Regions from separate parts of the Homo sapiens genome. Here regions 1, 3, 4, 5, 6 and 7 are each reported to be linked to region 2. The links are microRNA targets in miRTarBase. Many come from high-throughput screens and were not tested one by one. Region 2 holds a microRNA gene; each other region holds the end of a gene's coding sequence.

Evidence for each region. The annotated mature microRNA hsa-miR-3127-3p reads UCCCCUUCUGCAGGCCUGCUGG and lies in region 2 at 2,773-2,794, opposite strand. An mRNA with a match to its seed (bases 2 to 7 or 8) in the 3' UTR can be bound and repressed. Matches are read on the target gene's strand: a 7mer-m8 pairs with bases 2 to 8, a 7mer-A1 pairs with bases 2 to 7 and ends in A, and an 8mer does both.
Region 1: the mRNA of NDUFAF6 is a reported target of hsa-miR-3127-3p. Seed matches in the 3' UTR shown: 7mer-A1 at 788-794.
Region 3: the mRNA of CELF1 is a reported target of hsa-miR-3127-3p. Seed matches in the 3' UTR shown: 7mer-m8 at 1,106-1,112, 7mer-m8 at 1,752-1,758 and 7mer-A1 at 2,952-2,958.
Region 4: miRTarBase lists RHEBL1 as a target of hsa-miR-3127-3p. Seed matches in the 3' UTR shown: 7mer-A1 at 1,068-1,074.
Region 5: miRTarBase lists FAM199X as a target of hsa-miR-3127-3p. The part of its 3' UTR that is shown has no 7-base or 8-base seed match.
Region 6: the mRNA of CADPS2 is a reported target of hsa-miR-3127-3p. Seed matches in the 3' UTR shown: 7mer-A1 at 855-861.
Region 7: miRTarBase lists C8A as a target of hsa-miR-3127-3p. The part of its 3' UTR that is shown has no 7-base or 8-base seed match.

What each region holds. Positions count from the first base shown.
Region 1 is chr8:95,057,504-95,061,580 of GRCh38, forward strand. NDUFAF6 (NADH:ubiquinone oxidoreductase complex assembly factor 6) reads left to right here. Exons shown (of 9, transcript NM_152416.4): 9 at 306-1,207. The coding sequence ends at 434. Among named protein-coding and RNA genes, the nearest start is that of MIR3150A, 13 kb to the right of the region's middle.
Region 2 is chr2:96,797,041-96,801,117 of GRCh38, reverse strand. MIR3127 (microRNA 3127) reads right to left here and starts at 2,840; the gene lies at 2,765-2,840. It overlaps CNNM4 (cyclin and CBS domain divalent metal cation transport mediator 4), which reads right to left. Exons shown (of 7, transcript NM_020184.4): 2 at 3,963-4,077; 3 at 3,471-3,605; 4 at 1,892-2,061; 5 at 1,470-1,566. RefSeq lists an enhancer at 78-407.
Region 3 is chr11:47,468,914-47,472,990 of GRCh38, reverse strand. CELF1 (CUGBP Elav-like family member 1) reads left to right here. Exons shown (of 15, transcript NM_001376376.1): 15 at 634-4,077. The coding sequence ends at 761. Among named protein-coding and RNA genes, the nearest start is that of RAPSN, 22 kb to the right of the region's middle.
Region 4 is chr12:49,061,755-49,065,831 of GRCh38, reverse strand. It overlaps RHEBL1 (RHEB like 1), which reads left to right. Exons shown (of 8, transcript NM_144593.3): 7 at 401-482; 8 at 640-1,156. The coding sequence ends at 729. Among named protein-coding and RNA genes, the nearest start is that of KMT2D, 3.0 kb to the right of the region's middle.
Region 5 is chrX:104,189,046-104,193,122 of GRCh38, reverse strand. FAM199X (family with sequence similarity 199, X-linked) reads right to left here. Exons shown (of 6, transcript NM_207318.4): 6 at 1-3,515. The coding sequence ends at 3,345. Among named protein-coding and RNA genes, the nearest start is that of FAM199X, 25 kb to the right of the region's middle.
Region 6 is chr7:122,316,793-122,320,869 of GRCh38, reverse strand. CADPS2 (calcium dependent secretion activator 2) reads left to right here. Exons shown (of 30, transcript NM_017954.11): 30 at 532-2,459. The coding sequence ends at 705. Among named protein-coding and RNA genes, the nearest start is that of FEZF1, 14 kb to the right of the region's middle. RefSeq lists an enhancer at 3,140-3,994.
Region 7 is chr1:56,917,261-56,921,260 of GRCh38, forward strand. C8A (complement C8 alpha chain) reads left to right here. Exons shown (of 11, transcript NM_000562.3): 11 at 305-963. The coding sequence ends at 456. Among named protein-coding and RNA genes, the nearest start is that of C8B, 47 kb to the right of the region's middle.

The DNA.
Region 1 (4,077 bases), not on the chromosome of region 2:
ATCTAGTAATAAGGCCAGGCAAACGTGATTTTGCTAATCCTTTTGTCTTAACCAAAGCTTTTTATATTATGAGCAGAAGAGGCTTGGCTTTTCTGGTACTAGCTCTGTGATACCCTTTTACTGGTCTAATAGAAACTTCTTGGATGTCTTTTTCTTTCTCTCTTTTAAAATTCTCACTTAAATAGAAAACCATCTCAGGGAAACTAAAATAGCCTAAATACTTGTAATTATTCTTTAGTTAGTTTTTTTTTTTTTTAAGTCTTGATCATTTTATGATCTGGTGATCACTATTCTCTTTTTTCCAGGTTTCTCTAGAGGACTTTCTAAAGAAAATTCAGCGAGTGGATTTTGATATATTCCACCCATCTTTACAGCAGAAGAATACATTACTTCCATTATATTTGTATATTCAGTCATGGAGAAAAACATATTAAAATAATTTCATGGCATTGATGTTAATTCTAGTCTATTAGTTTTATAAAAGTTAGGATTCTTATTTAGGAACAACAGGAAATGACTGTTAAGGAGAAAATGAATTTATTGAATGGGATGTCAAGTAGCTCACAAAATTGAGAAGTTGCCGTGGGACTAGGGTGCCAAGACTGCTGAGATTCTGGCAGAGGCACTGCCATTGGCACCCCTGGCCCAGACAGTGTCTGCTGTGCTGTCCCTGGAAGCTGGAGCTCCAACAGGGAATATTGGTGTAGCTGTGCATAGGCCATAAGCCACACTTGAGCCAGTGGGCAGGGAGAAGGAATGTCATTCTCCCTTCACCACTGGGGAAGGAAAGGGGAAAGGGCTCAAGTTATCATAGGGGCTTACATGCTGAGCAGCTATAACCTAGGTGTTCAGAACACCTGGAAGATGCATTTATTTAGGGGTCACAAATAGTGAAATTAATATTTGAGGAATATCAGTCACGTGTTGTGGGCTTTTATCCTTAACGTTTAATTTTTACAATCTTGTGTAAAAATTTATCCATGATAATAACATAACTTCTTTAAGGTTGGAGTGGCTGGCAAGAGCAGAGCCTTAATTTGACTTTAGCTCTGGCTGGTCTGGAAGCTTTTACTTTTTTGTTAATCCCACTTCCTCACTCTGTCATTCAGCATTATCATGATCGTGAACAAAATTGTACTGAGAAAGTTTGTATAAGTGATATGAACGGTATTGTATTGAACATCCATTAAAGGGTTGCTACACTTTATACTGTACATTCTGCGCTATACATTGTGCTTCCCAGTGATGAGCACTGTGCTGTATACTTGCATCAGTGTTCTCATTTGGTTTTCCTAAAAACCTGTGAAATGAGGCACATTTTTGTTCATTAAACTTTTAAATTGTTTGAGACCAGCCTGGGCAACATCCAAAACCCCATCTCGACCAAAAATACATAAACTAGCCAGGTGTGGTGGTGCACGCCCAGCTACTAGGAAGGCTGAGGTGGGAGGATTACTTGAGCCCAGGAGGGTGAGGCTGCAGTGAGGCATGAGTGTACTCCATCCTGGGTAACAGAGCAAGACCCTGTCTCAAAGACAAACGAATAATAATTAATAATAATATAAAACTTTTAGAAAATGCATCCCAATTGGAAAAACCCAAATTTTTTACATTGCTGGTAATCGGTCGATCTGACTCTAAATGAATCTCACTCTCAGGACCAGGATTATGCCAGTTTCCTTTTTCCTGTATTTTCAGTAGTCTTGTCTCCTGCCCCATTCGGCTCTCTCATTTAAGTCTTTGGTATCAGCTATGAATTAGTGCCTACTTAAATTGTGAGTGGCTTAAAATGTTACATTTTTGCAAATTCAAACTGAGAGCTTTTGGAGCACAAGAATGCATTGTTCATTCATCTTGACATCACCCCCACCACACACCTAGAATGGCTTCTGATTGAGAGCAAGTAGAGATTAATAAATATATAGTTGAATGAATGTGCAATGTGGTTGTATATGCTAGTAGACTCTTAGTTGGTACTGATGTTGAAAGTAGATCCCCTTCTTTAATTCTGTGGCTTTCGAGAGCCATTCAGCTTATCTTCAAATGAAAATACAAGGAAATGGGGCCGGGCGTGGTGGCTCATGCCTGTCATCCCAACACTTTGGGAGGCTGAGGCGGGTGGATCACCTGAGGTCACGAGTTCAAGACCAGCCTGGCCAACATGGTGAAACCCCATCTCTACTTAAAATACAAAAATCAGCCAGGTGTTGTGGTGGGAGCCTGTAGTCCCAGCTACTCGGGAGGCCGAGGCAGGAGAATCACATGAACCTGGGAGGTAGAGGTTGCAGTGAGCTGAGATCGTGCCACTGCACTCAAGCCTGGGCAACAGAGCGAGATTCCATCTCAAAAAAAAAGAAAAAAGAAAAAATACAAGGAAATGGGACATGTTTCCTCTTGGGATTCTGAGTGATCCAGGGTTGAAAAGTTCATCAGAGAGTCTTTGTTAGGGAGCATTGTCTGCAGGTCTTCCCAAGTTAAATTTGGCAGCAATCATCTAGGCGTCTTGGTTCCTTTCTAAGGGTCTTAAAAGGAGGGTTTAATTACGCGACTGGATTAGTGGATTCTTTGCTGGCTCAGAAGCCAATTTATTAAGTAAATAATTTCAAAATACTTTCTAAACCATTTTAAATTTGATGCTTACAGATTTGGATGAACTAAAGTTACCAATCTAGAGATTCAAGTGGAGTCTTTATCAGTGAAATTTACTGTACTATTAATTTCCTGGTGTAAAAGATACTCCCTTAGATGATGCTGGCATTCTTTTTGATTTTTTCAAATCTCTGGGTTTTTATTAGAATATTTTAAAGGAGTCAGATACATTTTCAAACCATTTTAGATGTGCTTTGTTGTTGAATAAGTGGATAGCAGATAACATATTAAGTATAAATTACAGATTATTCTCAATGTAGGTAAAGTTGCATATCATTATGAAATAAGTTTTGGGTAGTTCTCAATTGGCAATATTCTTTCTCTCCTTGTGGTTGAAGCTCTCCTTTTGATGAAATTGAATTCTTGAGAAATGTAACTGTAGCTAACACTTATTGAACACAAACTCGAACAGGTGGTGTACTTCGCACTTTTATGCTTTAACTCTCATAGTGAAGTAGGCCTTTATTTTCCAAATGATAAAACAGTCTCAGAGATGTTAAGTTCAAGGTCATGGAGGCATTAGTACTAGAGCTGGATGCCAGATCCACATTAGTTCAATGCCAAAGCCCAAAGCCCATTATTTTTTTACCATTCTTGAGATTGTCAAGTAAACTGCCAAGTTTAAAAGCTCAAAGGCACATTTTTTAGAAATAAGTATTACTGCTTAAATTTCAGATACAAATTAGGTTAAAAAAGGTAATTACTACATAAGTTCCAACTACAAATTAGGTGAGAGAGAAATAGACAATCGAAATAGGTGTTAGGTGCTGGTCACTGGGTGTATATGGTGGGGGAGTGTGGGGGGATGCTTCACCGGCTTGGCAGTCAAGGTTTCCCAGAGGAGATGGCATGTGAATAGTGTCAGGAAGATTGGGTAGGACCCAGGGCTTGGGGAGGGGTTGTTGACGTTTTTGTGGGGAGGTCCTGGCTGAAGAAGCAGTGTGTACAAAGGCCAGGAAACGGAATGGATGGTCTATGTCAAGACTCTTGATTTTTTTGCCTTTAACTTATGTAAAAAGAACAGAATGTTCAGAGTTCTTAGGAAAGTTTGTGAATAAAGTGACCACATCCCCTGATCTACTGAAACACTGAATTAAGATCAGAGACTTGCGAGTTTGTATTTTTTCCATTTCAGCAAATCCCTAGGTGCCCTTGGATTTGTTTTAGCTCATATAAATTGGACTTTTCTGAAGATATTGGCTTAATCGATTGCCTTGTCTAGAAAGATCCTTACAGTTGTAAACATTATGTGGTTCTTTACTGAAAATAAAACAAAACATCCTACTGTTTGTTCCTGCAAGGAACACAGGTCCAGAATTGGGAAGGGTGTTGGAAATGGGTCAGAAGGAGGGGAGAAGAGTTGAGGGAATGCATTAAAATAATTTTGACACTTCATTTTACCTACTTTTTTCTATAATGAATGTATAT
Region 2 (4,077 bases):
AGGGAGTTCCGCTTGCCAGGCGGACACCCGACCTGGACTGAAGGCACTGGAGCAAAAGAGAAGGTCAGTGATGGGCGCAGTCAGGAGACAGGACACGGAACCACAGGCACAGGACAGAGGCAGACCTGACGGGGCCAGGCTGCTTTGGGCAGAGATGGGCCCAGTGGAGAAAGGGACATGGCTCTGCTGGGAAGGGTGCTCAGGGCACAGCGGTGAGCCCTGTGCGGAGACAGGCAGAAGCTGGCTGAGTGTGCCCAGTCATCTCCCCTCTCTTCTGGCCACACCAAGTGGGAACAGAGAGACTATGGGTCAACGGACAGAGCCTGGGCCCTAACCGGGCCTCTGAGGCTTCACTGCACAAACAGTGCCTGGGGGAAGCCTCCCGTGCCTGCCCGCCCTTCTGAATGAGATTTCCTCAAACTGAACAGAGAACAGCTGCTCTTGGAGGCACAGGAAGTCATCCCCAGGCCTGAGGCATCTGATAGGGTTAACCTGCTCAGAGCCCCGCTCTGGGGCCCTGTCTGTCCCCTGCCCAGGGAGCCTGCCATGCCCCACTCATCTGGTGGAGGGGCCGAGGACATGGTGGATAAGCCAAGCTGGGTGTCAGTATTCATGGGTGCCCTACCCCCGTTCCCCCTCGGGGTCCTTTTTGTCAAAGGACAGTGAGAGGCACAGCACAGAGGTTCTCTGGGAGCTGCAGCTCGTACCCCACTGGCGTGGCCTGTTCTCCAGCACCAAAGTGGACTTTCTCTCTCTACCCTGCAGCAACCTCGCCCCAGGACCGAAGCCTGGAGAGGAGCGAGGAGATGAGCTGGCGAGACCTGGGCCTGCGGGGCCTTGTCTGTGGGGCTCTGCGGGGAAAGCCTGAGCCACTCAGCACAGGAGAGGGCACTGGGGCGGCCAGAGTGGCGCATCCCCGGACCTTCCATAACACCTCTCGGAGGGTGCCCAGTCTCCCTTCTGTCTGTCCCCAAGGCCCTTTATTCCATCGGAGCTGACCTCTAACCAAAACCCAGTAGCCGCGTCCTCCGAAAAGCCAAACCCATCTGCAGCCTGCCCTGGCAAACAGGCCCTGGCCTGGCTCCTGACCCCAGTCACTTTGGATGCTCAGACTCCCCTCCTGTCCTCAGGAGCAGGGCCCTGGGCCTTCCTCCCCACAGGCCTCCTCTCCAAGCAGGCTGGTCTCCTCACAACCTCTGGACATGCCCTCCGCTGCCTCCAGGCCTTTACTCTAAAATCCCTCACTCCTCTTTTCCCCTCCAGCTTCTGGACCCCATCCAAAGTGGCAGCTCCCTCTGCTCTTCCACACCACCCGCTCCAGGCCCTGGCGGCTCCCGCCTCACCAGCCTCCCTCTGCCCCAGCCAGCTGGCTATGAGCTCTCGGGCCCATGCTCAGTTCTGGTGTCGGTCCATGGCTCCCCAGCTGCAGGGGGGCCAAAGGGCAGCAAAGACCATGCCCAACAACTCACCGGAGGGGACCGAGGTCAGGGCCATAGTCCCATAGTAGGAGAAGGCGCCCGTCTCAAACTTCATGTTCTCCTTCCCTGCCTCCACCTCCACCTTCCCCTGAAAAAACACAGGGCTGGAGTTAGAGACCAAGTGAGGGAGGAAACAAAGGATGAGGCAGGATGGGGAGTGAGGAACAAGGGACAGTGGGGCAGGAGGAAGGGCCGGTACTGGAGCCCTGGAGAGCTCAGGGGCCTGACCTGTGAGATCAAGAGTGGCCTCTCAGGGAGAGGATGGCCACGTGGGGCAGGCGGGGCTCAAGGGCAGGCAGCAGGCTCCCCAGGCAGGGAAGCCATGCACCTCCGCAGCAGGTGGGAGAGAGGGCCTGGGGGTTGCTGCAGTGCCAGGGGGAGCAGGTGGCAGGCCCAGGGCTGAGCGGGCTCACCTGCAGGATGAGGATGAAGTAGTCGGCCGGCTTATTTCGGGTGTACAGGTAATGGCGGGCGTAGTACTTATTGTGCTCGTCAAACTTGAGTTCCTGAATGACATCTGGGTACTTGAGTAGCCGCAGCAGGATCTTCTCTGATATCAGGGAGGGGCTAAACTGAGAGACCTCTGTAGGAGGAGAGAGAAGAGACCTCACACGGGGCTGGCCAGGTGGCCCTAAAGCTCGATCACTGCTGTGCCTCCACCCCAACCACAGCAGCCACGCTGTGCTCAGACGACTCCCGCCCTGCTCGGCCGGCCCTCGTTCTGCACCTCCCTGGGGAGGGAGCACGCTTGGCTTCTGACTGGTTGGATACAAGGCTGCCTGCCTGCCTGGGCTTGAACAGTGGCTCCTGCAAGAACAGCACATGACCTTGGGCAAATTACTTAACCTGCATCTCAGTTTCCTCATCTGTAATATGGGGGTAAAAGCTTCACAGGGTGGTTGTGAGGGTGAATGGGATAGCACATGGACAGCACTTAGTATATATGTGCTGTCCATATATACTAAAATATATAGACTATAATTATTGCATCAGCATCAATATCCCACAGGAAAAATAATGGAGAGGGAATTGCCACCCCTTTAGCAAGTAAGGGGTGGGAAGGAAGATGAATTGGGCCAGGGGAAGAGGGGGACAGAGCGGGCAGAGCAGAACCTGTCACCCAAGTCCCCAGTGGAGCTTTGAATCAGGGCTGAAAAGAGAGAAATGTCTCTGAACTAGAAGTGAATTCCTGCGGGAACCAGCACACGTCTGCAAAGGGGAGAGCTGGAGAGTAAGAGCAGAGCTGGATGCAAGCTCCTCAGAGTGGGTGAGCACACGAGGGGTCCAGCCACACCCAGCAGGCCTGCAGAAGGGGAAGCGTCCCTTCTCCTTCCCATTCCACAAGCCCTGATGGGCCTGGCCAGCCTAGGGGCCCACCTCAGTGGTTATTTTCTTTTTTGTTATTTTTGAGACAGAATCTTGTTCTGTGGCCCAGGCTGAGTGCAGTGGTGCATTCACAACTTACTGCAGCTTCAAACTCCTGGGCTCAAGCGGTCCTCCCACATCAGCCTCCTGAGTAGCTGGGACCACAGACATGCAACTGTCCCACCTCATAGCCTCCCAAGTAGCTGGGACTACAGGAGGGCACCACCATGCCTGGCTTTTGTATTTTTTGTAGAGATGGGGTCTCGCCATGTTGCTCAGGCTGGTCTCGAACTCCTGGGCTCATGCAATCCTCCTGCCTCGGCCTCCCAAAGTGCTGGGATTACAGGTATAAGCCATAGTGCCTAGTCATTATTTCCCAAACTATTAAATATAGTAACTTGGATGCTTCCTAGAAGTTTGCAGTAGCCGCCCATTAATGGCAAATGAATCGCAGGGAGATCCCCAGGGGTGGAGCAGATACCCGGCCCCTTCCAGGGGTGGCTGTGTTGTCTCTGCACCCCTCACCTGCTGCAGCCCTCGTCCTATGGGGGGAAAGCAGCCGGAAACCCAGGACTTCTCCCCCGTGACCGTATTTCCACCAAGACCGGAAGGTCCTCCTCATGCTACCTGTGGCTAGGAAGCGATGAGCGGCCAGGAGGAGCTGCGGGGAGATTTTCACTTTGAGCTCATTGTCCGCATCCTTGAAGGCAGAGAAGTCACGCTTGTTCTTCTCAGACACCCGCTTCCGGCTTCGGTTGTCAGCTGCCGGAAGAAGAGCGTGGAATTGAGAACACAGACCCCTGAGGACTTAGGAAGAGACTGGAACCCGCCCCGCAGCTCCTGCTCTCCAGCCCCTAGTCCCACGCAGGAGCAGCAGGCTCTGGCTGGCAGGGTCCTGGGCTGACGCCGAGGCACAAAGGCCGAGGGTGAAGGCAGCCTCCGGGCACTGCTCTCAGCAACCTGCTCCCTGCTCACCCCGGCCAGTGCAGGGCACCCAGCCACTGGGCCTCTGGATGCTAGGCCTCCTGTGTCCCTGCACTATGGCCCTTCCAGCTAGGGACACCAAGTTTCGATCCAAGCAGGAAAGGGGTCCTGGGCCCTGTGGAAGGCTGGACTCACTGTACATGTCGGACTCGTCCAGGATCTCCGACTTGATGATCTCCTCGATCACGTCCTCCAGGGTGACCAGGCCCAGGACCTCGTAGAAGGGGTCACCCTCACCCTCGTTGTTTAC
Region 3 (4,077 bases), not on the chromosome of region 2:
GTTGTTTTAACTTGGCCATGGGCAGGTCATTATGACCTCTTTTTGAGCCCCAGTTTCTCATTGCTGTAGTGGAGGTAAGGATTTCTACCCACACTGTTGCTCCAGAGAGAAAAATAATATATGGAAAATGGTTTGCAAAAAAACCTTTAAACAGTCCAGGTTTGTGCCTGTAAGTCCCAGTACTTGGGGAGGCCAAGGCAGGAGGATCGCTTGAGCCTAGGAGTTCGAGACCAGCCTGAGCAACAGAGTGAGACCTCATGGCTACAAAAAATTAGTCAGACGTGGTGGCGTGTACCTGTGTTCCCAGCTACTTGAGGCTGAGGTGAGAGGATCACCTGAGCCCAGGAGGCCAAGGTTGCAGTGAACCATGGTCACACCACTGTACTCCACCCTGGGTGACAGAGCAAGACCCTGTCTCAAGAAAAAGAAAAAAACCTTTAAATTACCATGTAGCTGTTAAGTGGTACTATTAAGAACCTAATTTATTTCGTATGACATAATGTCCAGATTTCTTGTCCCTGCTGAATAAAATTGGGATTTGAGATGAAGCACATAAGGTATCTTGCATAAGGAGGACTGAGAATCTCCTTGCCTCATTATGTCCCTCACCTAGGTTTCTGCTTGGACACACAGGTTTTGTAAGTTACGACAATCCTGTTTCGGCCCAAGCTGCCATCCAGTCCATGAACGGCTTTCAGATTGGCATGAAGCGGCTTAAAGTGCAGCTCAAACGTTCGAAGAATGACAGCAAGCCCTACTGAGCGTGCTCCCCTCTGAGACTGGAGTGAGAGGGTCTTCTGGTAAGTGGGGGAGGAGCACCCTTAATGATTCGAAGCCCTGAGGCTGTGTGTTGACAGCCCTGGACCCTGATCCCTGCCACTCTCGCAGGCACAGCTTGCCCTGAAGACTCGGCTACTGCCTTCTGTGGGAGTTTCGCTTCGTACAGAGGACAAGTTTGTGCTTTGGTTTCCAGTGTTTTACTTTGGAGTTTAGGTGCCATATCCTGAGGTTTTTTTTGTTTTTGTTTTTGTTTCTCCTTTATTTAAAGTTTGCTGTGTTTGTAACCAGTGTGTGTTGAGAAGGACCAACACCAAACCACCCTGGGGAAGGGGGACAGGGAAACATTTAACACAGACGATGATCAGGATTTGCCCCAAACCACCCCAAGAGAGAGGACTGAGTGGAACAAAAAAGTGACCCCCAGAACCTCTCTTAGTGTGAGGGTGGGTAGAATGAGAACTGACACCTGGGAGCTGTGGGGAGCAGAGCGGCTTTGGGGAAGAGTGGAGTGACTAGACACCTAATGCCCTGGCAGCTGGAGACTCAAACTCCTGTACAGCTACCTTCTGGGAAATAGTTTTTGACACCTATTTTTCAGATTCTTGTCCGGAATTTCTGCTGCTCTTTTCAAAAAAGGGCATTAACAATTCTCTGGAAATAAAGCACCTGTTAGCCTGACATATGCAAAAAGCAGGGCGGCATCACCCATTACGAGCTCCCCCAGCCAGCAGTCAGTATTGGATTGGCCTTGCCTGGCTGGTGGCAGTTTGGGAGAAACAGCCAAAGAGGTTAGTTTATTTCAACACCAAATTAGACCATGGCCCATTTCCAACGGGTCTCTTTAAAGGCCTCTATGGAATACATTGCCTGGTTTCCTTCTTTGCAGTTCACCACAGCAAGGAATGTCACCTCCATCCCAAGCCACCATTTTCTCATGAAGGCAAATCCAAGAAGGGCTTGCAGTTCTTGCTGAAGGGGGTACCATTTGTGGGCAGAGTGATCAATACCATCTAGTTGGGGGAGGAGGAGCTTATTTCTTGGTGTACTTGAATCAGAAGGTCCCTGCAAGCCAGTATGCTTCATTTGCCAGTGGCCAGAAATTCTCCCTTGCCTCCTTGATTGAGGTGTCCCAGATGTAGTATTCCCACAGGGGTCTGGCAGGCCCCTCCTGTAACCACTCCAGTCACATTTTCTGCTCTTGAGGCAGAGGTGACATCAGGACGTTTACAGCCTCCACATGAATTGAGTGTTCATTTACCTCAGTATTACCGTGTTCATTTTTGTCCTCGTGCTACAGTTAGCTCCCTGCCGCCTCTTGCAGGTCTTACTTCAGCTCTTGCCTGTGACCCACACAGCTTCTGGGCTCTGCCTCTGCTCTAAGAAGTGCTGTGGGGGTAGAGAACCAGGAAGGACATGCTGTTGGGAATGTACACCTGGGCAGAGGTGGCCCTGTTAAGATGTGACTGTAGCCACAGCCAGGGATGGGATCCCTGGGTCTCTGGAATCTGAAACCTCAACAAATACCAGTCTTGACCCCTAGCAGCAGAGATAAGAATAAAGGGGTTGGTTTGCTATTAAGTCAGATGGGGGCTCTCTCCTTGTCATGCTGTCCCTGTGGGTAACAGACAGGGATTGACCATCTTACTGTTGTACAGGTAGCTGGTGGTGTTGGATTATCCCATTGAAGCTGGGACAGCTGTTCCTTTCTCATAGTGATAACTTGGGTCTGTTGTCCTCTAAGGAACGTGAAACATACACTTCTTAAGCTGAACCACGTAAACTTGAAATTCTGCGCACTGGGAGAAATGTGTCCTGTGTTTCAAAGGATAAAACTGTTCTAAAGGCTTCCAGGGTCATGATGGGATTTTTTAAATAAATGCAAAAAATAAAAATAAAAAAGAAAAAAGAAAACAAAAAAAAAAAAGAAAAAAATGCTAGGTTGGGGAGGCGCTGTTCTGAATCCCAACCGGCTGGAACCAAGAATGTCGTTTCTATTTTTATAGAAGTTTTATACAGCTCCGGGGTGGAGAATATTTATTACCTAAATTATATCTCTGGAAAAGGCCAGGATTTTGTAGAATCCAGAATGTGATTGTTATACACACAGGGTGCTGTGTATGATTGAAACTACTGACTTTCTGTGGCCCGTTTGCAGCCCAGCTAACCTGCCCAAGGGGAAGGTGTTAATGCTGTGAATTGGCAGAGGAGAGAGCTGTGCTCCATAGGGTGCTGCCGGTGCTGTGCTCCCTAGCCTTCTGTTCTGTCTTCCTCCTTAGCCAGAACGCCACTCCCTTCCCACATCCCCTTCTTCTCTCCGCCTTCCCCCATCTCACCATTATTTGTCCATGGATTTGTCCTGGGCTCTGGGACCTTATGAAACCCCTTTCCTAATGACATAAGAGGCCAAGGTGCAATCCACCCACCTTTGATACCAGACCCTGAGGGCTTCATACCTGCTGATGGGTTTTCTTTTCTAAAAGGAATGCTCGCCCCAGCAGGGTCCTGGGCTGCTTGAGCAGCCAGCTGGTGAGACCATGCACTTCTCTGTTCTCTCCTCCCCCTGCCCAGTGAGTTAGCACAGCAGTAGCACTGCCCTTGAGCACAGTTCTTTCCCCAGGCCAAAGATGGTTTTGTGAAGAAGCTGCTCCCCTACAAGTCTCACGTGTGAAAGGGCTCAGCTCAGAGTGGAGACTCGCTGTCAAGTCTTAAGCAATCCTTTTCTGTTGTGTGAAGGTTTCACTTACAATGTGTTTTCTGCTGTAGTTTTGTTTCTTACTTGGGTTACATCATGAAATTGATTTGCCTTGAATGCAGCCAGACCACTGTCTCCTGGGTTCCCCTTGAGTGGCCAGGGCCTGGATGGAAGCTAAGAGCTTGGATTTCTGGGAACAAAGGGCCATCCCCATAAGATTGAGCAGAAATTCTGGTCCTCTTCCCTGAAAAATTTTCCCCACCCCAGCCAGCATCTTCTGCTTCCCCTTGGGTTGTGACCAGGGAGTGGGGAGAGAGGCTGAGGCTCTGCTCCCCTGGAGACCTTCTCTTAGGAGTTGGGTGCTTCATGGAAAATCCAAGCCTTAGGTTCCCTTCTGTCTCTGGCAATTAGATGTGTTCTTGGTGTCCTCCATGTCCTTTTTGACTTTTCCCTGTGTCCATTGTTAGCATGTGCAAAAGTTCCCTGTCATTACCCAACCCCTGCCCGCCCACCTCATTTCAGGGCTGTACACACAGTGAGTGTTCCTGTTCTCTCTCTCTTTGTTTGGATGTATTGCTCTGTGTAACTCAGTGGGTCTCCCTCTT
Region 4 (4,077 bases), not on the chromosome of region 2:
TGCCTCAGCTTCCCAAGTAGCTGGGACTACAGGCGCGTGCCACCACGCCCAGCTAATTTTTTGTATTTTTAGTAGAGACGGGGTTTCACCATGTTAGCCAGGATGGTCTCGATCTCCTGACCTTGTGATCCACCCGCCTAGGCCTCCCAAAGTATCGGGATTACAGGCACAAGCAACCGCGTGTGGCCCATTTTTTTTTTAATAGAGATGGTGTTTCCCTGTGTTGTCCAGGCTGGTCTTGAACTCCTGAGCTCAAGTGATCCACCACCTCGGCCTCCCAAAGTGCTGCATTACAGGCATGAGCCACTGTGCCTGGCCAGGAAGTCTTGATTCTGAAGATTTTTCAGAGCACTTACTGACATTTCTATCCTCCATCTTTATGTCCCAAATTTGCTTCCAGAGAGGTACAGGCAGTTGAAGGAAAGAAGCTGGCAGAGTCCTGGGGTGCGACATTTATGGAGTCATCTGCTCGAGAGAATCAGGTGCTGGGCCTGAAGACTAGAAGGGTGGTGATGGTAGCTGTGTTTTCCTTATTGTACTGCTTGGTGGTGGGAATGTTGCGGGAATGGGGCTTTCACCCCAGAGCTGGGTGGTATTGGCACTGAACTGACTTTTGCCCTGAATCCTCTCCTCTTATAGCTGACTCAAGGCATCTTCACCAAAGTCATCCAGGAGATTGCCCGTGTGGAGAATTCCTATGGGCAAGAGCGTCGCTGCCATCTCATGTGAGCCCTTGGGTGTGGGGTAACTGCCTTGCTTCTGCCCCCGGCACTTGCCATGTTCCAGTGGGGGGCAGATCCTCAGGACTTCACGGGTATGGTTGCCAGCTGTGTTCCTGGCCCCTGGACACACAGTGTGGCATCCTCATGTTTGCACACTTTCCCCAGGCTCCAGTGGCCTGGATGTCAATGTTTACAAAGGGGCAAGGACCTCTCATGGACACTGGCCTCTAGCCCTCTGTTTTTGTTTGATGAATTCTGTTATAACCTATGGGGTCAGGATATGAGTCCTGGGCATTATTTATCCAGGACCCATCCTCTTGGGTGGGTTTTGGGTGTTGGCTGGGTAAGGGGAGCCGGGGACTTCTGAAATAGAGCTGGCTCCCTGGGGTGACAATGTATATATGCAAATAAATTGAGAAATCTTTTGTTGTTGACTTCTTTTTCGTGTGTGTGTGTGAGACGGAGTTTCACTCTGTTGCCCAGGCTGGAGTGGTGCAGTGCTGCAATCTTGGCTCGCTGCAACCTCCGCCTCCCAGGTTCAAGCAGTTCTCCTGCCTCAGTCTTCTGCAGGCACCCGCCACCATGCCTAGCTAACTTTTTTATTTTTAGTAGAGATGAGGTTTCACCTAGGCCAGGATGGTCTCGAACTCCTGACCTTAAGTGATCCACCCACCTCAGCCTCCCAAAGTGCTGGGATTACAGGCGTGAGCCACTGCCCCCGGCCTTATTTTATTGTTGACTTCTATGTATCTAGTGAGAGCTCAGAGCCAAGATCTCTTTTTCCAAGGAGTGATGGCTGTGGTCTTTGGTGGGATATCTTTCCTCCTACCTTGTTCCTATTCCTTATTCCTCACTTATTAAGGACCATTATCCTAAGATTTACTACTTGCCTTTCCCACCTTTCTATTCTGCTGGGTTCCTCATATACTAAGTCCAGTTGGCTGCCACTCCCATCCAAGTTTTGTAGCCTTTCAAGATCCCCTTAATTACAGAAACACCACCCTCTAGTGGCCAACTGCAACATGCTGACCTAGCTGTCTTCCTGGGGCCTCGGCATTTGCTTGGATTCAAAGATGATGGGGTTTCAGGAGAAGAAAGGAAGCCCCTCATTCCTAATGATGTAAGAATTGAGAAGGAGTGTAGAGGCAGAGACTAAAGTGTTGTGAAGACTTTGACTTCCCAAGAGTGTTGAGTAAAGTAAGAAATAATGCCTCCGGTGCATATCAGTCCCCTGGCCCTCCATGTCCCCAGTGTCTTCCATTAAAATGGCCGTTCTTTGCTGTTTTCATACCTTTAATCTTTTTGTACTTTTTACACCTTTGGTGGTGTGCTACTTTTTTTTAGGTGTCAAAGGCTATTGGTTCTGCTTTTATGGGCCTACCGCCTCAATGAATTGATATTTCAGCTAGGAAAGTTTGGTCCTGTTTGCCTCTGCTTTTCTTGATCCCCACCCTCCCACCAGCCTGATTGCCTAACTAGTCTAATACCTCCTCCAAGGATGTGTAAGGGTTATTTGAATGGTAGATCTTCACAGAGAAGGTACAGACCTCTTCTGACAACTGGGGGAGCCCGAGGTACCCTATCAATGTACTTACTTGGGAAGGATTGACAAAACCTAGATGTGATTTTTAGCTGTGACTTTGTCAGTGCCTGGCTCCAGGCTTACAGTTGGGGATATGGCTTGTCATGCTGATTTTCAAAAGTCCTGACAGCTGCTTTTGCTTTTCTGATCCAGAATCTAAAAAGAAATAAGGGCTGCTAGAAGAAACATACTCCAAACAACAATCTCACTGGCTTAGGAGGTTCTTCTGGTAGGTCACCACTGTCTCTCCTTATGTTAAAATTAAGTCTTTTTGCACATCTGACCTGGGATACTCATTACATGAGCCTACCTTCCTGCTGCCATTTTCATGAGGTCTGGGGTAGACTTAGAAACATCTAAAGTTTTCTAGTTTATCAATAATCTCAAGGCCTGGGGACAGTAGTGATAGTGGTTAATAGCTCCTCCACTTAGCTGTGTGGCCTTGGGCGGTCACTTAACTTCTCAGAGCCACCATTTCTCATTTATGAAGAGTGGCTAAGTGTGCTTCATAGAGTTGAGATGAAAATTAAACGAGGTAATATATGCAAAGCTTACTACAGTTCTTCACACATAATAAGTCCTTAAGAAATAGTGGGGTGGTGGCTGGGTGCAGTGGCTCACGCCTGTAATCCCAGCACTTTGGGAGACCAAAGCGGGTGGATCACCTGAGGTCAGGAGTTTGAGACCAGCCTGGCCAACGTGGTGAAACCCCATCTCTACTAAAAATAAATTAGCTGGGTGTGATGGTGGGCGCCTGTAATCCCAATTACTAGGGAGGCTGAGGCAGGATAATCGCTTGAACCTGGGAGGCGGAGGTTGCAGTGAGCCGAGATCGCGCCATTTCACTCCACCCTGGGCGACAAGAGCGAAACTCCATCTCAAAAAAAAAAAAAAAAAAACCAAAATAGTAGGTGGCTATCTGTGTTATTACTGGAGGTCTTTCTGGTGAGGGTCTACCTCTCCCTGCCTCTGGGTGCAAACCTGGGAGGGGCCTTCCATTTTCCAACTTGTTTCTTGGTTAACTTATTCTATTGTAATTAAAACAAGTGTGGGATCACTGCTGGAGTTTTTTTTGCTCAAATATGTGTGAATGGTCAGTGCAGAAAACATGATGCCAATGTGTGGCTGGAAGAGGACAAACCTAGTCCTGATCCCTCCTATTACTCTTACCAGTAGGGATTAAGGTCTCCTGCACTGTCTAATATAAAAGCATCACCTCACATGTGGCTATTTAATTTCATTAAAATAAAAAGTTCCTTACTTGTACCACCTGCATTTCAAAGTGCTCGAGAGCTGCATGTGGTTGATGGCTACCATATTAGATAGTGTAGATTTAGTCCATTTCCATCACTGTAGAAAAGTTCTGTTGGGACCGGGCGCGGTGGCGCATGCCTGTAATCCCAGTACTTTGGGAGACCAGGGCGAGCGGATCACGAGGTCAGGAGTTCGAGACCAGGCTGGCCAACATAGTGAAACCCTGTCTCTACTAAAAATACAAAAAAGTAGCCGGGTCTGGTGGTGTGCGCCTGTAATCCCGGCTACTAGGGAGGCTGAGGCAGGAGAATCGCGTGAACCAGGGAGGCGGAGGTTGCAGTGAGCCGAGATCGCACCACTGAACTCCAACCCGGACGACAGTGCGAGACTCTGTCTCAAAAAATAAAAAAAGTTCTCTTGGACAGCATCGTAAACCCTTTCCTCACAAAGCTGGCATTGGATCGAATCTGCCTGCCTCTTTCTCCACATCTTCTTTTAAAAAAACGTAGTATAATTATT
Region 5 (4,077 bases), not on the chromosome of region 2:
TGAAAAGCCTGATATTGACAAAAACTAGAGTTCACCACCTTTAAGGCACATGAGGCTATACAGAGTAAGCCACAAACAAAAAGTCTCTGCTGGAGAACCCAGAAACAAACAAGACTTCTATATTGGTTGTGTACTAATATTTCTGGCTAAAATATGAAGACATTTGCTATATTTTATAATTTTTAAAGCTCATCAGAATCTGGATACCGCTATAGTTTCCTATAATTTTTCCTTTATGAGAGGATTTAGCACTTTTAAAAGCTAAATAAAATGAGAAGTTCACCCAATCTATAATGAGTCATTATTTTATAGGTCAGTTTCTGAGATTAATTCACCAATATCTAATTCACTCAAGGGACAGAGGAACTGGACAAAACTGCCATAGCCTAACAAAAATGAGGTAAGTCTCATGAAAAAAAAGTGTTATTTTATTCTAAGTTCTTGTTGGGAGAGAATGAACTAGCCCTTTATACCTCACTACACATTATAATACATCACCTTCCTTTAATTCAGTTGCAAAACTATAGAAAAATATTATATATGTCATTTTGTTAAATGCAAGTCTCATCCTTTAGAAAGCTGTAGTAGGAACTGAGATACTACTATAAGATCTCTAATAAAATGTTTCTGGATAAATCTGTGGGAAATGTATTACGCCCTCAGTTAACAAGGCTTATTTTCAAAGGGGAGACTTAAAATTTGCTCCAATGTCAGTTCTCTACAGATGAGAACCAATACTACAGCAAGTAAGTCTTGCCTTTTTATTAATTAATTGGTTAGTTAGGATTTGTATTTAAAAATAAATATTACTGAGTTGGATTGTTTTAAATTGAACTCAGAGATACACCATATTGAATAAATTATTACTTATTCCAAGAAAGAAATAGTTCAAACTTTGAATTATCTACACAAGACATTAAAACGGAAAAAATGTACAGCACATGAACAGACACCAAAGAGCTTTTTATGTCTTTCTCTGCTAGTTTCTTTTTTGGGGGGACAGAGGACTATCTAATCTCCCTCTTCAATCACAAGCAAGCCCAAGTTAGTTAATTATTTTCTTTTAATCAAAGGAAATATTTTCAATCTCCTTCAACCCAACTTTATGGACTATCTCTAATTTATAGTACTATAATGACAGTTCATCTGGATTTACACAAAATTTCATGATGCACTTCTATAAACATTCAAACCTTTACAAACGTTAAAAATCAACTTTGTGGCACTTTGGTAAACTTGCTTAATAGTGACTCAAGTTAAATTGAAAGTAATAAGACTATGTGATTATTGGGAGAGTAGGGGAATTGGTCTTAAATTATATCATGACCTTGTTTAGGGTTTTTTACTGATGACCGTTAAGTAAATAGTTTCCAAGTATTTGACAGATAAATGGTGCTCTATGGTCTCCAAAAGTGGCCTGTTTTCCTTGAAGAATAGGTAAAGACAGCAGGCAATCATTCTGTGGGATTTTGCTTTTGCTAAGAGCAGGTAGAGAATTTAGATACAGTTACTATGCTCTATTTGCTCTTCCTATACTTGGAAGGGAAAACAGTGAGGTTAAGTTGTTCCACCTCCACAGAGTATTCTGGTGTCTATCCCTAAGCTCTCTTTGGGTCCTCTAAGCTGGTTAGGAGAACCAAAGAGGGGAAGGGGGAAAGTAAGAAAGACTACTCCAATTGAAAACCATAGACACATATGTTTTATTTTAGTAAAAATTTCAAATTATGACTTTAGTAGTCTTTAAAAGGTTACAACCATATCACAGACCTTGGCAAAGCTGCAGTGTATTAATTTTTATCCCCAGTTTCCATTCTTTAACCTTCAAGGAACGAAAATGAAATCAAAATTTTAAAACACATGATTATAAGCCTTTGTATCAACTGAGAATTAAGAATTTAAGTCATGAATCTTTTTCTTAATAAGCTACTTGACGTAACAAAAAGTAAAAAAAAAAGAAATCTTACTAACCTCTGTACTCTTAGAGTTTGAAAAATATTGATTACAGCTCTTCCTACAGAATCACGGTCACCTTCAAAATGCTATCCACAATATAAAGAAAATTATGAAAGTCAGAAAGCAGCTTGATTGTCAGTAGTATCAGTTTCCATCTTCTTTAACCCATGTGAATGTTCAAGACATGTGGTAGAAGAAAAGGAATAATGCTATTTCTAATGTTCATGATAACAAACACTCTAGGAAAACATTTAAAGAAACTCCATGATTTCACAGTTAAAATTAGAGCTCTATTAATAACCAACAAGCTAAGGTGTTTTCTATATCTCATTGCTCTGTATATTTCTAGCAATTTATAGAGAAGTTTAGCAGATCTACAAGGGTTTTCATCAGTTAATTTTCAACATTAACTAGGTCACATGCCAGAAGCTGTTATACCAAATATTTAAAAATTAGAGCTGTGCTGAAAAAAAAATGACCTACAATAAGAACTTGAGAGAGATATAGACTGACTTCCTGCCTGAGACAATTTTACAGCCTAAAAATTCTGAAAGCAACAGAAAAGCAGAATTGCTTATTTTGCCTAATTACTTTCACCATTTAAATATTAATCAACATAGCATCAAGTCTAAAATTCAGCTACTAGTAACATTATTTCATCAGTAGTCATCACTTAAAAAAGGATTCTGAACTTACATAAAGTAAAAAACAAAAATAAATCTAATAGGAAAAAGATAAGGGCCTGTTCTAATACCTTTGAGTCAATAATGAATGAAAACAGACAGAACTAAAACTAATGAAGGCACTATCGTAAACAGCAATCCACACCTTGCCCACCCCCACACCTCAGAAAAGATTTCCACCAGGAATCAAGAATTATGCTATGGCCCTTTAGGAAAAGTAAACTAAGAAATTGTAACATTAAGAAGGGAACTAAATTATGATCTCTACACATGTATGTATACTGACATAATAAACTACTGTCAGCAGTACCTTGAAATCTTCTAAACTGTGTAAGTACTAGTCTTTGAAGACGCCCACTTCACCGCCATAAACTTTAAACAGTCAAAACGTTTACCCAAAGTAGTGGTTCTTAAACTAGACTGTGCATCAGAATAACCCAGCACTTGTTAAAAAAACAATGCTAGGCGCCTCCCTGTTGGTTTCTGATTCACTATGTCTGGGGGCGGGGCCCACTAGTATGCATTCCTAACAACTTCTCAAGTGATGCTGAAGCTGCAGGTCTTGGGATCACCTGCCAAGAACCACTGGCTTAAATTATTAATGGTACATCAGCACAGCCCTAACCAAAATTTTGGTCAAGATGCATGTAAACCCATAAGGATGGAGTATTTTAATGCTCACAAAGAACGTTGATAAATTCACCCTTATTACATCAAAACATCAACATCTGCTTCATGGTCTTCCTCAGTCACTTTCAAGGACAGCACCTCTTCGTTAAGGAAGAGCCCACTGAGCCTCTCCTTCCGGGCCTGCCTCTGCTCCTTCAGCTGCCTCTTGCGGAAGGCCTTCTGCTGTAACTTCCGCTGCTTGGATCGCTTCTGTCAAAATAAAAATTTCTAAATCAGTTTGGTTTAGTTTTTGGCATATCCACCCCAAAATGTTTTGTGGATCAAATTCTCTATTTTCTAACTTTAAGAGCTGTTCAAATCCTTCTGTAGTATGATCCTTGTTCCAATAAGTGAGCCACTGGCTTAGGCTTAAAAATGATTAAGATTCCAATTTTGTGGTATTTGACCAGTGACTCTTCTGATTAGGAAGAGTTGAGACGATCATTTTGGCTAGTGATAGATAAAAAGTCACTTCAAAGACTTCTTTTTTAAATTCCATTAAGGTACATTGGTACAAATGCATAATGAACACATAATTAATACTAGGCGACAATACTGAATACACCTGTGGAGAACATTGCCCAAATCTCTAATACTTATGATTCTCAGGTGCCTTTCATCCAAAAACACTAGCAATCTTACAATGGCAGGTAAAAAAAAAATCATGCCTTTTTTGTAGTAGGCGAATACCATCTTAAAAATCCATCAGAAACTCAGTGGATACTCCCATCCTTGTCACCGGTGAACTGATAATAAAAAGGAATGACCACAT
Region 6 (4,077 bases), not on the chromosome of region 2:
TTTATCCAGTGGTACATGTAAATAAATTTTATAATTCACTGAAATGCTGAAAATGTGAACTTCTTTTACCGATAATAGGATTAATCTTCTTCCTCCACACAACTGACCCCTCAAAATTAATGCATTTTATAAAATATAATGTATTTTTCAGTATTAAAGGAAAGCCCCCTCAATTAAAAAAACTAATAATTTCTTATTAAAAACTTACACAGGTACATATTTTATTTTTGCTACAGGTTGTTCAAAAGGTAAATTGTGTGCAATTAGTAATGTTCTGAGGGGAAAGTGAATTTGTCATCTGATAGTAACAACATTTTGATGTAGTCATAGTAATTGTAGTTTGAAGCAATAGCCAGAGTCTGTCATTCCATTTACTCCCCAGAAATACACCAAGAAGATGATTGGCATGGACAGCCACATGAACCTATCAGTGGATTCCCCAAGATCATTTTTGAAATGCCAACTGAGTATATATCTATGTACACGCATATAATCTAAGTGAGCTAAGCAAATTTTATCTTCTTTCTTCAGAAAACCTACAGGGACTTTCGATTGCAGGGTGTGTTGGAAGGAACACTGAACAGTAAGACTTATGATACTGTGCACAGACGTTTAACAGTAGAGGAGGCCACAGCCTCTGTTTCAGAAGGAGGAGGACTTCAGGGCATTACTATGAAAGACAGTGACGAAGAAGAAGAAGGCTGATATCACACAGCTTTGCAGAAGGAAGGAAGACCTTGATCGACATTGTTTTTTATTTTTTTAACCTTGTCCTTGTAATTACATTCATTGTTTGTTTTGGCCAAATAAAAATGCTTGTATTTCTTTAAAAAGTAAGCCTGAATGTAGAGTAAAAGGGGAAATGCCAAGATTTTGGGGTTTTTTTGTTTCCTTTTTTTGTTTGTTTGTTTGTTTGTTTTTTTGGAGAAGAGCATCCTCTTTTGTGTAGTTTGACCTAAAAATGAACCTTGGCTCTGCTTGTGATCAGAACATGAACTTTTTTTTTTAAAGAAGATTTGAGCATTTTTCTGTAATCACATCAAAATGATGTTTTCTGTGTAAAGCGAGATACATATTTCTCATAATGCAGCATTGTGAGAAGTCAGTTCGGACCACTGCACCAACACTGTCGTATCCTTGTTAAAATGGTGTGTACCTTACAAATTATAATTTATGTGCCAGGTTCGTTTTGTACTTAATTTGCTATTATTGTGATGTGTATAAAATCTTTAATCTTGGTTCTTAGTACTTTGAATTGGTCTACAGGTATATTCCTGGGATGAAAGGATTGCCAAACCCAAATATAGACTAGATTATCCAATGGGTTTGTGTCTTTGTTCCATTCTCAACATTTCTTCTTTCAACTATAAGTAATCCCCAGGTGTGGGGTAGCAAGTGTGCTTCCGTCAAGATACCATATTCTCCTGCTCCAGTATAACAGCTTGCAGGCAATAAAAATCTATTTGCTCATAACTACTTCTGTATTTATTAGACTTATATAGAGCAAATGCAGTAAAAGAGGTTTGCAGTGTTTCAAACATCCCAACTATCTGACTCTGTGTTTTTGTTTCTTGAGTTTTTTGTTTGTTTTGTTTGTAATATTTTGTTTTTAATCAAATGAGTAAAAGATAGTAACACTGACTGTTCTTTGTACCTAATAGGCACATACATTGTTAAAAGAATTACTATGACAGCATATTTCCATAGCAGAGGAAATATATATTTCATATATTATTAGTTAATATTAGTAATCAATGTTAACTAATAATTAGTAATGTTAGTAATATTAACTAGTAATTCACATTATTAGTGGTTCTCTCAAAATATTTTCTTGCTAGGGTTTGAGAGATAATTGTATTATGTTGCGTAAGTTCTCTATGAATTATTTTTGTGATATTTCCCAAAACATATTGGCAGATTGTGCTACTGCATTTATTAATAAGTAATTTTTAAATGAAGGCAGTTAATGCAGAATAAGTGGAGGTATCCCTGCATTTATGAAAACGTTTATTCTGAAACTTTAGAAATGAAACAACTTGGACCTCCAGATTCGTTCTCCCATGGTGTAATAAGTGGTCGTTAGGTACCTAGACTAGCCTTAAAAATCTATTTAATCTACAGTTACTATTTAGCATTGTTTTGGCTCATTTTCTGGGCCCTAGGGCTAAGATAACAAACAAGGAAATTTCTTCCTTCTTCCGGGATTAAAGACTAACTCTACCAACTCACTATCTTTGAAAGGCAGTTTGGGAATGTTCTCCCTCCTTTTCTTCTCTATTCACACACCAAATACTATTTTCTCCAAACCCTCAAATGTCCAGTCATGCTATCCCAAACTCTCCAATGGCACCATCCCCAAGCTTGCTGTTCCACGACACATTGCTCTGTACTTAGTAATTACCCACCCTTCTTTTCCTTTCAATAAAATGTCCATTTCCTTGATACAGATCATCTCCAAATAATGCATCCCTTTTGTCCTGAAGTGTAACTAACTGATGACCTCAAATGTATTAAAAGTCGGCCTTTGTTAAAGAAAAGTTTATTTACTCTAAGAAATGACAGCTGACAGAATTCAGAAATAAAGAAGAAAAGCAGATGCTGCAGGGGAAAGTATTTGCGGCCTGGAGGTTCTTGCTGCTGACCTGGCCTGTTTAACCTGCCCATTGGCCTCCTTGGCTGGTCAGCCCCTTTGAGGTTCTTTCCAGATTTTTATGTTCTCTGCTACTTCCCTTCTACACCCAGGAGAGTCCTAAAAGCTTGTTCCCTACTCTTCACCCACAGTGGCTTCCAAAGCAAAGGCAATAGCAGTCAGGCAGGTAGTGGAGCTACTTGCATCCTTATGAGAAAATCGGAGACCAACCTTTGATCCATAAAAAAGATGTATGAAAAAATTCATAAAGTAACTGAAAAATAATGAAAAGTGATTTTTAAGTTTTTCCTCCAAACTAACTTCAAATTGAACTAATTGCAAAGTGCTTGAAATGACTTAATAATTGTTCATTGATGGGTATAACTATTAGGATGAACACCCAAGCATCTGTCTATTAAAGGATGCCACATCTTATGTGGTATTAACTCTTTTTAAGGATTATTTTTTAAGAAAATGGATTTAGTCAAAGGCCTAACAACTCTTGCAGAATTTTTTAAGTGAAACAATTTTGTCTAAAAAGAAATAGCTATACCCGTCTAAATGATTTGGGGGAAGGGCAAACAGGTACATTATTTGGACAGTTTCCTTAGTGTTGCAGGAGATAATTAATACCATCTAACATCCAACCGGAATGGGTTTGTTAAGTAATACGTCAAGAAGGAAAATTTTTTCAAACACTTGAAGAAAAAAAAAATAATAATGCCTATTCCTGGAAAAGGAAAGAACCATGCAGAGCTTAATGTAAACCTCTTGGCTCCAGCAGTGGGTCTTTCTTGTATTCACTGATTTTTCCACTTGAATTCTCTTTAGTCCTTGCTCATTGTCCCTCTCTCAGGAGAAGGGAGTTCCCGCTTCTTTTGCAATAAACGCCCAGTCAAAGCGTCTATGTGCTGCCACCCCGCCACCCAGGGTCACAGTCCAGCCTGGCCTGGCGCCGCCCTCAGCCTGCAGCTACCGGCGGTGAGAGGGTCCACCGGCTCCTTGAAGGTGTGCTTGAGAGGGAAAGAGGTCACTCAGCCGTCGTTGCTCAGAGATCCTCGAAGCCCCTTTGCGCTGCCGCGGTCTGCCTCCCGAGAGGGCCTGGGGACAGCAGGCGCGGGGACCGGACCGAGCAAGCCCGGAGTTCACAGGAACCCCGCGCCCCCGAGCTCGGACCCGTCCTTCTGATCCCGCCAGCCCGCGTGGAAGGGCCCGCGGGGGGAAATTAGGGCAAGAGCTTGGTCGCTTTTATTTCTTATTCCCAAAACAGAAAATGGAAATTTCCCGGTCCGGGTCCTTAAAGGGAGGTGATAGATCGATGTTCCGGAGAGATGTTCGCGCTCGACTGGCGGCGGGGCATCTGCGCGCCGGGATAGCAGCCCAGCCTGCCAGCTTGCGCTCTGCGCCTCTCGGCTCTCAGCAGCTCCAAGCCCCCGCCACAGCCCTCC
Region 7 (4,000 bases), not on the chromosome of region 2:
GGATGGCCTTCCCTCCTCAGTAGCAGCTCTGCAACTCCCTGGACAGAGCCCCCAGGGGCAATTAATAGCCTGACTGCCATGGTCTCTGCAGTGAAACTGCCCTTGCTACATCTGGACTAACAAAGGAGCAAAGACCCTATGTACCTTATCTGTACGTACCTCCAACAAGCTGCAGTCGACCAGAGGAGGGGAGGCCAGTTCCTCTCCCAAGGGTGCCACACACCCCTCCCTGTTCATCACCAGACAGGCCCTTCCTTCTTAGCCATATGCTAACCTTCTCCTCCCTGGGAAATTTCCTCTGCAGGAGCCAAAGCAGATGGGAGCTGGAGTTGCTGGAGCTCCTGGTCTGTATGCAGAGCAGGCATCCAGGAAAGGAGAAGAGAGTGTGACAATCCAGCACCTCAGAATGGAGGGGCCTCGTGTCCAGGGCGGAAAGTACAGACGCAGGCTTGCTGAGGGCCTCTGGACACAGGCTGGACCAGATGCTGTGGATGTCGACCCCTGCACTGACTATTGGATAAAGACTTCTTTCAACTAAGAGAAGATGCAAATCAGCACACTTTTTTCTTTGTTCTGCCAGCTTCCAGGCCTAAGACTAGGTTTTGCTGTCTACAGCCAACTATTCTATTAGTTACAAAACTCAATCATTTTATTCAGCAACTGGATGTTGACTGTTAACTAGAAGCTCTGTCCTACTTACAGCACTTTGGATCATCAAAAAAATAAAGTAAAATAGAAAACTGAGAAAACTCAATCCATGACCAGGGAGAACTTACAGGATGTTAGAGACAAAACAAGCAGACACCTGAAACAATCAACGCCCAATAAAACAAAGTAGGATGAAAATTCTCTTAGTTCTTTGATAACAATTTGTTCACTCATAGAAACATTATTAATTGGTAGGGTAAGCAGACACTCTGAAACAATGAGAAAAATACTAAAAATTGACTTGAGTTATTTCAATTTGCCTTCATTTGAACTCGTTTATTAATTCAATTAATCTCTCTAGTTCCCTTAAGTTCTTACCACAAATGTGACATTTCTCCTGATTATTTTCTCATGGAACACTTCTTTTCCTACATTGCAATTTTCACAACTAGTAATTATATTATCTTAGTCTATTTGGGCTGCTATAACAAAAAGCCATAAACTAGGTGGCTTATCAACAACAGAAATTTATTTCTCACAGTTCTGGAGGCTGGGAAGTCCAATATCAAGGCAGATTCAGTGTCTGGTGAGGGCCCACTTCTTAGTTTTTACAGGACTGTCTTACTGCTGTGTCCTTACATGGCAGAAGGGGCTAGGCAGTCTCTTAGGTCCCTTCTTTAAGGGCACTAATCCCATTCATTAGGGCTCCATTCTCGTGACCTAGTCACTTCCCAAATTTCCCACCTCCTCATGCCATCACTTTGGGGTTAGAATTTCAACATATGAATTTTGAAGGGACACAAATGTTCAGATCATAGCATATATATTTAATCCCACATCTCCTGTGACTATGTAAGACCTATCTCTTCCTAAGAGATAATAATCTTGAGGGCAGAAGTCAGGCTTCTTTTGTTTAGCACTGTAGCCCCGGAGGTCAGGCTTGTGCCTTAAATGTAGCAGGGACTTAGTAAGTAGCTGTGATTAAATAAGTGAATGAATTGAAGAGTCAGTTCATAGATGAGGTACACATTGGTCAGCCTCCCAGAGTGGAGAGTGGATTTGAAGAGGCCAACTAGTGACGATCAATCCGCCTTCTCTGACCCATCTCTAGGGGAGGCCAATCACACCAGCCAGCCTCAGAATCCCACAGCCCTCCAGTCATGCCTCAAATAGAGAACATGTTAGGTAGCACTGAATTTTCTGTTTATCCATCAGTTTCCCCTATTAGATTTTGAGCTCCTTGAAGGCCAAATCTACAATCCTAGTGTATAGTAGGTACTCAAGAAATGTCTGGTGACTAACATATATATTGATGCTTCAAGTCATTCCAGAGTCCTCAATCTTGTTAAAGTCAGAATAAGAATTATGTACCTGAAACAACTAGAGGAGGTTTTAGGGAAATTAATTGTTGAGTTAATGCTAAAATATGTAGCACACAAAGTAAGTGCTGAAGGAGGCCAGGTGGGAGAGAGATTTACCTTTCCATTACTGTGTATATTGTGGATGGCATGGGGATTGCCCCAGGCCCTGAAGGACTTTTCAACTAGGCAAACTGGGAGGAGATCTCTCAGACAGAAATTCGGCATGAGACAAAGTCTGAAAGTGAGAAAGACATTTGGGGGTGCATGCAGGTGCGTATGTGTCAGGAAAGGGGAGTGAGGAAAATAATGCATGTAAATAAAATAAGGCATATAAAACACTTGGCACTATGCCTGTCATACAGGACATTATTACCCTCATGCTTATCGTCATCATTATTAAGACTATTATTAATTAAAGAATGTGATTTAGAAGTTAATTTCTGAACTCTTTAGATCTTCTACCTGAAAGAAGAAAAAAAACTCTCCTATTGCTTTTCATCCTGTCATTAATTTGCTTTTTACTTTTTAACTTACATTAATAATTAACCTACATTCATTATTTACTGAGTAGTGGCAGTTACATGCTAGAAAGTGACCAAGGGCCAAATATGCCAGGCCACGTGGGCACTTTAAAGAGAACGTTTGATCTTGACCTAAAAAAACAGTGGTTCTTAAACTTGGTTGTATGTTACAATCACCTGAGCAGTTTTCAAAACCCTGATGTCTACAGACTGCACCCGAAACAAATTAAATCTTAATCACTGGGTGTAGGGACCAGACATCCATAGTTTTTTGGGGTTTTTTTGTTTGTCTGTTTGTTTTGAGACAGAGTCTCCAGGCTGGAGTGCAATGACACAATCTTGGCTCACTGCAACCTCTGCCTTTGGGGTTCAAGTGATTCTCCTGACTCAGCCTCCTCAGTAGCTGGGACTATAGGTGCACGCCACCATGCCCAGCTAATTTTTGTATTTTTAGTAGAGATGAGGTTTCGCCATATTGGTCAGGCTAGTCTCGAACTCCTGACCTCAGGTGATCCACCCACCTCGGCCTCCCAAAGTGCTGGGATTACAGACTTGAGCCACTGCGCCCGGCCTGACATCCTTAGTTTTAAAAGTTCCTCAGGTGATTCCAAGTGCAGCCAAGGTTGAGGCTCCTGAGAGTGGAGGAATCATTATACCTGCATGGGGAATGGGGTCTGTGACAAAACAAAAAGGCAGGGACAGTAAAGTTATTTGTGCTATTTTAACTAGTCTTATGCAAGATCTCTTAAGGTTTGTTTTCTATGTCCTATTGTGCAGCCAAGAAACTGAATCTCAGCAAGGTTGAGCCTCATGGGTCACAGAGCAGGCCAGGGTTTGAATGCGTCACATCAAACACACGCTTCCATTTCCTCCACCCACCCTTTGCTCTTGTCTGCTGGTGGAGGGATTTGGAGAATAGTGTGTGGGGCACAAGGGAGGGGAGGAAACCAGAGGCAGGGAGGCTCATCAGGAGGTAAGTGTAGTAATCTGGGCAAAAGATGAGAACTTTGAGATTAAGTAATTGCCTGGATCATCTGTGAGCCAAAACCACCAGCTGAGCAATGCTGTCTTCCTGTCTTCTGAGCCAGAGAACCCAAGCCAGCATCTGTCCCACTCCTCTGAGGATGCTACATCCCCAAAAGCTTTACAAATTAAAATACAGTGGCAGTTTCAAGCATAGCAACCCTTTATTACATCAGCAGCTTTCCCTCTTCAAGAATGACTGGCTCTCACAAAGCAAAAAGCATAAAACTCATCCAATGCATTTTCCCTTAGGTCTTTTAAGAAGATCTATAATCTAAGGTTTTATAGGTAGTGGGTGTAAATACATGGTTTAAAGATATAATCTTCAGCTTGACAAGGTGTCTTTTGAAAAGTAAATTAATGACAGAATAAAAAGCAATAAGGAGAGGCTTTTTTCTTTTTTTTTTTCTTTGTGAGAAAGGAAGATCTAAAGAGTTCAGCACTCAA